2 separate regions of the Homo sapiens genome follow, and region 2 is linked to region 1. The links come from fine-mapping of genetic effects on gene expression. A gene starts in region 1. The other region holds a variant in brackets. All regions are shown on one strand. Distances are from middle to middle.

Evidence for each region. PIP is the estimated chance that this variant, and not a neighbour inherited with it, causes the effect. A credible set is the group of variants that fine-mapping cannot tell apart.
Region 2: its variant is the best candidate, but not a certain one, in a credible set for the expression of ODAPH in prefrontal cortex (CommonMind, PIP 0.67).

What each region holds. Positions count from the first base shown.
Region 1 is chr4:75,553,396-75,557,795 of GRCh38, forward strand. ODAPH (odontogenesis associated phosphoprotein) reads left to right here and starts at 2,671. Exons shown (of 2, transcript NM_178497.5): 1 at 2,671-2,754. The coding sequence starts at 2,688. RefSeq lists a silencer at 2,404-2,698.
Region 2 is chr4:75,740,380-75,744,779 of GRCh38, forward strand. The region is part of intron 1 of USO1 (USO1 vesicle transport factor); the gene reads left to right. Among named protein-coding and RNA genes, the nearest start is that of USO1, 18 kb to the left of the region's middle. The variant G/GTACT (reference allele first, on the strand shown) is at 1,836.

The DNA.
Region 1 (4,400 bases):
TTTTTAAATTGTGTTCCTTGGCCAGGCGCGGTGGCACACACCTGTAATCCCAGCATTTTGGGAGGTCGAGGTGGGCAGATCACCTGAGGTCAGGCATTCGAGACCAGCCTAGCCAAAATGGTGAAATCCCGTCTCTACCAAAAATACAAAAAAATTAGCTGGGTGTGGTGGCACACCCTCATGCCTCAGCCTCCTGAGTAGCCCTGTAATCCCAGCTACTCGGGAGGCTGAAGCAAGAGAATTGCTTGAGCCCAGGAAGCAGAGGTTGCCGTGAGCCAAATGGTGCCACTGCACTCCAGCCTGGGCAACAGAATGACACTCCATCTCAAAAGAAAAAAAAATGTATTCCTTTTAAAATTTTGTTCCTTTATTTTATAAACTTCAGAACAACAGATTTGAATGAAAAAATAAGTTATTTTGCTTTTGTTATTTATTTTCATCAACATTTAAGATGAAAGCTCATTAGCACTCCAAAACAAAAAAGAAAGAGAATCAGAAGAAGTAATAGAAATGTCCATCAGTTAAAAGTTTGGTTAAATAAATTACAGTAAATCTATAAAATGAAACACCAGGCAGTGGCTGAAGTGATTATGTGAATCTAATTCTATTGGCATTGTGGTGTATTTACAATGCAGGGGACAAAGTAGCATATGTGATACTGACCCGTTGATGTAAAATTACAGACTGTGTTTGTCTGCTTCGTTCTCCCATAGCCTTCAGTCCTTCCCCTCTCTTAGCACTCAAAACGCTTTATTGTTATTCCTGAGTTAATTTTTAATGTCTCCTAAACTATAAGTTCCATGAGAGCAGGAATCTTATCTTTAGCCCCAGCACCTTGACCAGTGTCTGACACTGAATAAATAAAAGTCAATACAGAATTATTGAATGAATGGGTAGTCTAAGGAACTCAATTTGTCCTGGATGTTTCCTGATTCCTTTTCAAACTGCTGACAAATCATCCATCTGATTATCTGTTCTGGAAGTTTGCCTAGGACTAACATCAAGCCTGAGGAACTTTCCATTTTCTATCTGTGAGTGTTTGCATCCTTATTCATTTAGACTTTCAGTTTGCACAGCCTCTCTTGTTAGATTGTCAGTCCTTCAAAGACAGGGACCATGTTTAGTTTGTTCTTTTTTTTTTTTTTTTTTTTTTTCCATGATACCCAGGAAAATGTTCTGCTTAAAGTGGAGGTCTTTCCAGTGATTAACTGATTTGGCAAGTACAGCCTCCTAAGAGAATAAATTATCAGTTGGGATTATTATAATTTAATGACAATCACAAACACTCCCTTTCACAGGCCAGGCACTGTGGTTGGAGCTGTATGTCAATTATCTCCTTGATATGAAACCAACTAAGTGGCCATCGACCAACGAGTGGATAAAGAAAATGTGGTAGAAATACACCATGGAATACTACTCAGCCATAAAAAAATGAAATAATGTCTTTTGCAGCAACTTGGATGGAGCTGGAGGCCATTATTCCAAGTTAAGTAACTCAGGAATGGAAAACCAAATATCGTATGTTCTCACTTATACGTGGGAGCTGAGCTATGAGGACACAAAGACATACAGAATGATATAATGGACTTTAGAGGCTAGGGGTGGGGGAGGTTGGGAAGGAGGTGAGGGATAAAAGACTACATATTGGGTGCAGTGTACACTGCTCGGGTGACGAGTGCACTAAAATCTCAGAGTTCGCCACCATAGAGTCCATCCATGTAACCCAAAACCACTCGTACCCCAAAAGATTGAAATTTAAAAAAAATTTTTTTTAAAAGCATCTCCTTAATTCACAAATTCCTCTGAGGGTAGTACCACAAGTCCCATTTTACAGGTGAGGCCCCTGAGGCTTCAGCAAGTCTCAGGGACTCACCACAGTCACTCAGCTAGTAAGAAAAGGAACAAAGACTGGAATTTTACCTGACTCCAAGGTCCATGTTCTTAATCACCTGTGACAATCCCCTCTCATATATCCAGCAGCTGATGAAGTCTTTCTCTCAGGAAACCAACTGGACATAGACATGTCATGTCCATTTTATATGCAATATGGTGAATCAGGAGGAGCCGTGAAAGGACGACTCACTAAGTTACTCTCCCAATGTTTATGTTTGTTTAGACAGTGACCATCATGACCACTAGGGAAGATCACTTTCTGATTCTGCTGCCCTCACCTCCTGGACAAAAGCAGAGCAGAGAAGCAGCATAAACCCTGGTTGGGGGCCTAAGAATGATCCCCAACTCTCCACTGCAAACCACCGGGGTCAGGAAGCCTCCGGGTAATGCCCTCTCCCTCTTGTTTCGCTTTTTAAGTAGGTAAGCTGCACAGAGAGAAGCACTGTTGCATATTTCTGGACAGCTTATTTCTCTTGCAGAGGAAGACTGATATACACAACTAAAAGGCACTAACATGGGAGAAGATTTGAGAGATTAGAAGGATGGTGAAGGTGCGGTTGTCCAAAATCCCCCTCTGGGGGGAGATGATTGATATCTGGCTGTCATTCCAAGAAGCTTCTGGTTGACAAATACTGTCTGGTATTTCCTTGCTGATTTCTTACCCTCACACCGCAAGCCCTGATCTCTGTGGTCCACTGTGCAAATGCAAATTACCTGAATCAGGCTGCTGGTGACTCACCAGCTCCCCTTTAAAGCAACATCAGGTTCAACGCAGTGACTGCTCAGTAGAAGCCATGGCTCGCAGACACTGCTTCTCCTACTGGTTACTGGTATGCTGGTTGGTGGTAACTGTGGCAGAAGGTAAGGGTTTTGCTTTTATTCTACTGTGGGTCCACTAATTAATAAGTTGTAGGAAAAGACAAAACTGGCTCCATGATTATACGTTCCCATAAATTGGAAATATTTACCTCAGCTTCCATCAGCCTGTGTGGTTAAAGAGAAGGAAGTTGGATTTTGTCACCTGAAGACCTTGGTCCTCGTCTCAGCAATAGCTCTGTGACTTTAGACACACTTAAAATCTCTGAGTATCAGATTCCTCATATGTGAAGTGACAACATTAACAATATCCATCGTTATGGGGTTTGCAAGGACCAAATGAGCTATCATCTGTGAAAAACTCTTCAAGCTAAAAACACTGTACAAATACTAGTTATTATGGTTACAAAGCTAACAATTCCACTTTGAATTACAGCACTGTCCACTTTCTATCTCCAGCAGCATATTAATTTGCACATGGTGGGTATTTAGTCTTTGTTCATTGCTTTAATTAATCACATCTATTGAGCTGCATTTTGGTGCCACAGAGGTGGGCACAGGTTTCTTTCTTTAGGATTTTATTAGATTCCATTTCTCAACTGTTCCTATTCTCTTTCTTTGTTCCCACTACAAAATGTGTCCTGAGCCTTACAATTGGTTTGCAAACCCCTAGGAAAAGGAAAGAAAAGGCTGGGGAAGGGATGAAAAGAGGGAAATACAAGGGGAGGAAATCTTGGGGAGCCTAGATCTAACCTTTTCTTCAGTTTATTTTAATTCCAAAACTAGATGCTGTTTACGGAAGATGGACCTAGGAGTCAAACAGAGCACTTCACCCCTTTCACATGTCTTGGGTAGGGGGCTTTGCAGGGGCTCAGCCAAACCCTGCTCATCCCCAGACAGATTCCCCGTTCCCATCCCTCAGAGCTCACAATAGACAGGAGGAGGGGAGAGACATAAGAGCTGGTTGTGGAACACTCAGAAACCCCCTGATCCAACCTCTGCACACACTCTGGCAATCAGGGGACAGGGCATAGATTATGAACAAAACCTGCCCCCATATCCCAAGGCAAGGCCCCCAAGCCTCACCTACTAAAAGTGACATCTAAAAGAAGCATCATAAAACAAAACTAGCCACCTGCCACTTTCTCTGCAAAAAGTGAACCGCTCTTCAGGAGGCTTTGTAAACACATAGCTAAACAAGTTATAATGAGATTAGAGATTTATTTTATTCACATCTTAAAAACACCCACTGAGGCTGGGTACAGTGGCTCACACCTGTAATCCCAGCATTTTGGGAGGCCGAGGTGGGCAGATCACCTGAGGTCGGGAGTTCAAAACCAGCCTGACCAACATGGAGAAACCCCATCTCTACAAAAAATACAAAATTAGCCAGGTGTGGTGGTGCATGCCTGTAATCCCAGCTACTCGGGAGGCTGAGGCAGGAGAATCGCTTGAACCCAGGAGGTGGAGGTTGCCATGAGCCAAGATCGTGCCATTGCACTCCAGCCTGGGGAACAAGAGTGAAACTCTGTCTCAAAAAACAAAACACCCATTGAAACACCAGATTTGATTTCCGAATTTGGCTCACTTTTCCCTACAATCCCTCGAAGTCCTTCAAATGTAGCTTCATTCTATCCCAGCAGCCCCTGCTTCCAGTTCATCGCTCGTTCACACACACCCTGGGTCTGCCC
Region 2 (4,400 bases), 190 kb after region 1:
TGGGCTCAAGTGATCCTCCTGCCTCAGCCTCCTGAGTAGCTAGGACTACAGGCACTCGCCAACATGCCTGGTTAATTTTTAAATTTCTTATAAAGACAGGATCTAGCTGTGTTGCCCAGGCTGATCACAAATTCCTGGCTTCAAGCAGTCCTCCTTTTCGGCCTCCCAGAACTCTGAGATTACAGACATGAGCTACTGCGCCTGGCCTAGGAGCAGTGGTTTAGTATTCACTAATTCAGTTTTCATGGTAACTTTATAAAACATAGCTACTGTAAATAGCAACAAACAGTTATATTCATAAACCAGGTGAATAGTCAATCAGGTGGTATTTTAGAGTAGGTAATAAAAGCAAGATCTAATATGGAAATTTCTTTAATTTTTTTCTCTTTATTTATTGAAGCAATAATGGAAATATGCTTGCTGTAAATAATCCAAATCAGTATGTAGTCTAAAATTGCCTCTTTCTTCCTTCACAGTCTTACTTCGCATCACTCGAAGTAATCTCTAGTAAAGTTTGGTGTACATCCTTCTACAGTGTTGTCTTTTGTATTTACCAATATATATATTTACACAAATGAGTTTCTTTATAAAAATCTGTAACTGTGATAGTTCTTGGTAGCTCAGTGTCGGGGCTAAATTCTGAGAAATGCATTATTAGGCAGTTTTGTTGTGCAAACATCCTAGAGTGTACTTAAAGCAAACCTAGATAGTATAGCCTACTATTCACCTAGGCTGTATGGTGTAGCCTATTGCTCTTGGGCCATAAACCTGTACAGCGTGTTACTGTAATGAATACTGTAGGCAATTATAACAATGGTAAATATTTGTGTATCTATGCATCTACAGTAAAATGTGGCATAAAAGATAGTAAATAGTATGCCTATATAGGTCGCTTAATCATGAATAGAGCTTGCAGGACCAGAAGTTGCTCTGGATGAGTCAAGTGAGTGAGTGGTGAATGAATGTGAAGACCAAGGACATTATGTAAAGTATACTTTATAAACACTATACACTTAAGGCTACACTAAATTCATTTTTTAAAATTTTCTTCAGTAATTGACCTTAGTTTACTATAACTTTTTAACTTCATAAAGTTTTAAACTTTTTTTAAAGCTTTCTGTAATAATGCTTAGTTTAAAACACAAACACATTGTACGATATTTTTCTTCTATATCCTTCTTCTATAAGCTTTTTCCTATTTTAAAATTTTTACTTTTTAAACTTTTTTTTTTTTTTTTTTTTTTTGAGACAGTCTCGCTCTGTCAGCCAGGCTGAAGTGCAATGGCGCAATATCGGCTCACTGCAACCTCCGCCTCCCAAGCTCAAGTAATTCTCCCGCCTCAGCCTCTCGAGTAGCTGGGATTACAGGCACCTGCCATCATGCCTGGCTAATTTTTCCATTTTTGTAGAGATGGGGTTTCACCATGTTGGCCAGGCTGGTGTTGAACTCCTGACCTCAGGTGATTCGGCCTCCCAAAGTGCTGGGATTATAGGCGTGAGCTACCATGCCCGGCCACTTTTTTGTTAAAAACTAAGACACAAACACCTGTTAGCCTAGGCCTACACAGGGCAGGGTCATCAATATCACTGTCTTCTACCCTCATCTCTTGTTCCACTGGAAGGTCTTCAGGGGCAGTAACATGCAATAGAGCTGTCAACTCCTATAATAATAATGCCTTCTTCTGGAATACTTCTTGAAGGACCTGCCTGAGGCTGTTTTACAGTTAACTTTTATTTTTTGTGAGTAGAAGTACACTCTAACATAACCATTAAAAGTATAATATAGTAAATACATAAACAAGTAACAGTCATTTGTTACTGTTATCAAGTATTAT[G/GTACT]TACTGTACACAATTGTCTGTGCCATACTTTCATAAGCCTGGCAGTGCAGTGGGTTTGTTTACACCAGCATCACCACAAACACATGAGTAATGTGTTGTGCTAAGGCTAGGACATCGGTAGGTGATAGGAATTTTGCATTTCCATTATCATCATATGGGACGTCTGTGCAGTGGTCCATTGTTGACTTGAATGTCGTTACGTAGGCCATGCGTATTTTAAAATTTTTAACAGTGGGTTTTGGAGATTTGTTTCAAACAAATAGGCTGAGGCATTTGTTTCTTGTTAACACTTTTCTATTCTGTAATCTTACCTATCTTCACTGTATTTACATATGTGTTATTCAGATGGTGAAATTTTGGAAAAGTTACTTGTTTCAAGTACAGAATGGTTGAAATGTGTGCCTTGGTAGTATGCTGAGATAAGAAATACTTTGTTAAAAGGCCTAGGGGCAAACATTTCTGACTTTCTCATGAAAATAGAGTGGATCAATTTCTTCTGTGTTGTAACTCCCTCTTTTGATCACTAATTGATAAGGTGCTAGATTACATTAAAATCTGATATCTAAATGTTTTACATCCTTCCCAACTTTCCTATCATGTAGATGAGAGTGTTGAGAACTAAGATAAGAGTTTGTGACTTCAGATGACCAGTGAGTTTATGAATTTTGCTTAAAACTACTAATCGTCTTCTTTGGTCGGTTTCCAAGAGAATGAGGTTCCAGCAACAAAGCCTGCTTCAGGATCCCATCTGGGAAAGTGAATAAGCATATCTTTTTTTTTTTTTTTTTGAGACAGAGTCTCGCTCAGTTGCCCAGGCTGGAGTGCAGTGGCACGATCTCGGCTCACTGCAGGCTCCACCTCCCGGGTTCAAGCCATTCTCCTGCCTCAGCCTCCCGAGTGGCTGGGACTACAGGCACCCACCACCATGCCTGGCTAATTTTCTTGTATTTTTAGTAGAGACAGGGTTTCACCGTGTTAGCCAGGATGGTCACGATCTCCTGACCTCGTGATCCACCCGTGTCGGCCTCCCAAAGTGCTGGGATTACAAGCGTGAGCCACCATGCCTGGCCGAATAAGTGTTATCTTTTAACTGTACAATTAAATTGTTTTTCCTTCTGATGGTAACATACTCATTGAGTCGGTTTTCCTACTCTTCTTTTTGCTTCATTCTTGTTACCCTTACTCACACTTCCATCTGTATCCAAAATTGTGTTTCTCTAAGGCCCCTCTGCCTGGCTGTGCTGTCCAAAGTAGCACCTTCACTCAGTCACGGTCTCACTTCCCTCACTTTCTGTGTTTGTCTTACTTGTTTTTAATATATTCTGTCTCTTTGCCATTATAGTTTCATTAGAATAGGTACCTTCTGTACTGGTTCTCTGCTATTTTCCCAGCGTAGACCAGTGCCTTGCAAAATGTTAAGTACTTGAACGGTGTTTCCCAGACTGTCTGTAGTGAAGGACCAGTTGATTTTTTAGTTTGTTTTTCAAATTTCATCATAGGCCAGTAAATACATTTTGTTATAAAATACAATAAAAATCAATTACTAGAAAAAATGACATCACATACAAGCCCTTTTTTTTGAGACAGAGTCTCGCTCTGTCACCTAGGCTGGAGTGCAGTGGCGCGATCTTGGCTCACTGCAAGCTCCGCCTCCTGGATTCACGCCATTCTCCTGCCTCAGCCTCCCAAGTAGCTGGGACTACAGGCGCCCGCCACCACGGCCGGCTAATTTTTTGTATTTTTAGTAGAGATGGGGTTTCACCGTGTTAGCCAGGATAGTCTGGATCTCCTGACCTCATGATCCGCCCGCCATGGCCTCCCAAAGTGCTGGGATTACAGGCATGAGCCACTGTGCCTCGCCCCTGTTTTTCTTTTTTTTATTAGATCCAACAGCCATAAAAGTATCCATTGTCTATAGAGGTTTCTAAATGCTTAGTCTCTATTTCTGAAGTTAGTTTATTATAAACCACTGCTTCAGGTTGCACTGTTCTTGGCCCCCCCATAAGTGTGGCAGCACTCTAGTATTTGTTGAACAAATGAATGGATTACCAGCCTCAGGGTTACCACAATAAATTCTTCAGACTGTATTATTCCTTTGACCTTTAACTTTCCTAAACCCCAGAGTATATACTGAGATACGGAAGGATGATGGCTCATTCATGATATCAGACTTCAGCTGGCTTATTCACTGCTGTTTTTTGATTCTATAATAATTATTATTTTGAGACGGAGTCTCACTCTGTCGCCCAGGCCAGAGTGCAGTGGTGTGATCTTGGCTCACTGCAACCTCCGCCTCTCAGGTTCAAGCAGTTCTCGTGCCTCAGACTCCCGAGTAGCTGAGATTACAGGCACCCACCATCACACCCAGCTCTTTTTTGTATTTTTAGTAGAGACAAGGTTTCACCATTTTGGGCAGGCTGGTCTTGAACTCCTGACCTCAGGTGATCTGCCTGCCTTGGCCTCCCAAAGTGCTGGGATTAGAGGCGTAAGCCACCGCGCCCAGCCCCTATCCTTTTTGTTTTTTATTATAAAAGTAATATCTGAATACATGATTGTTTAAATAAA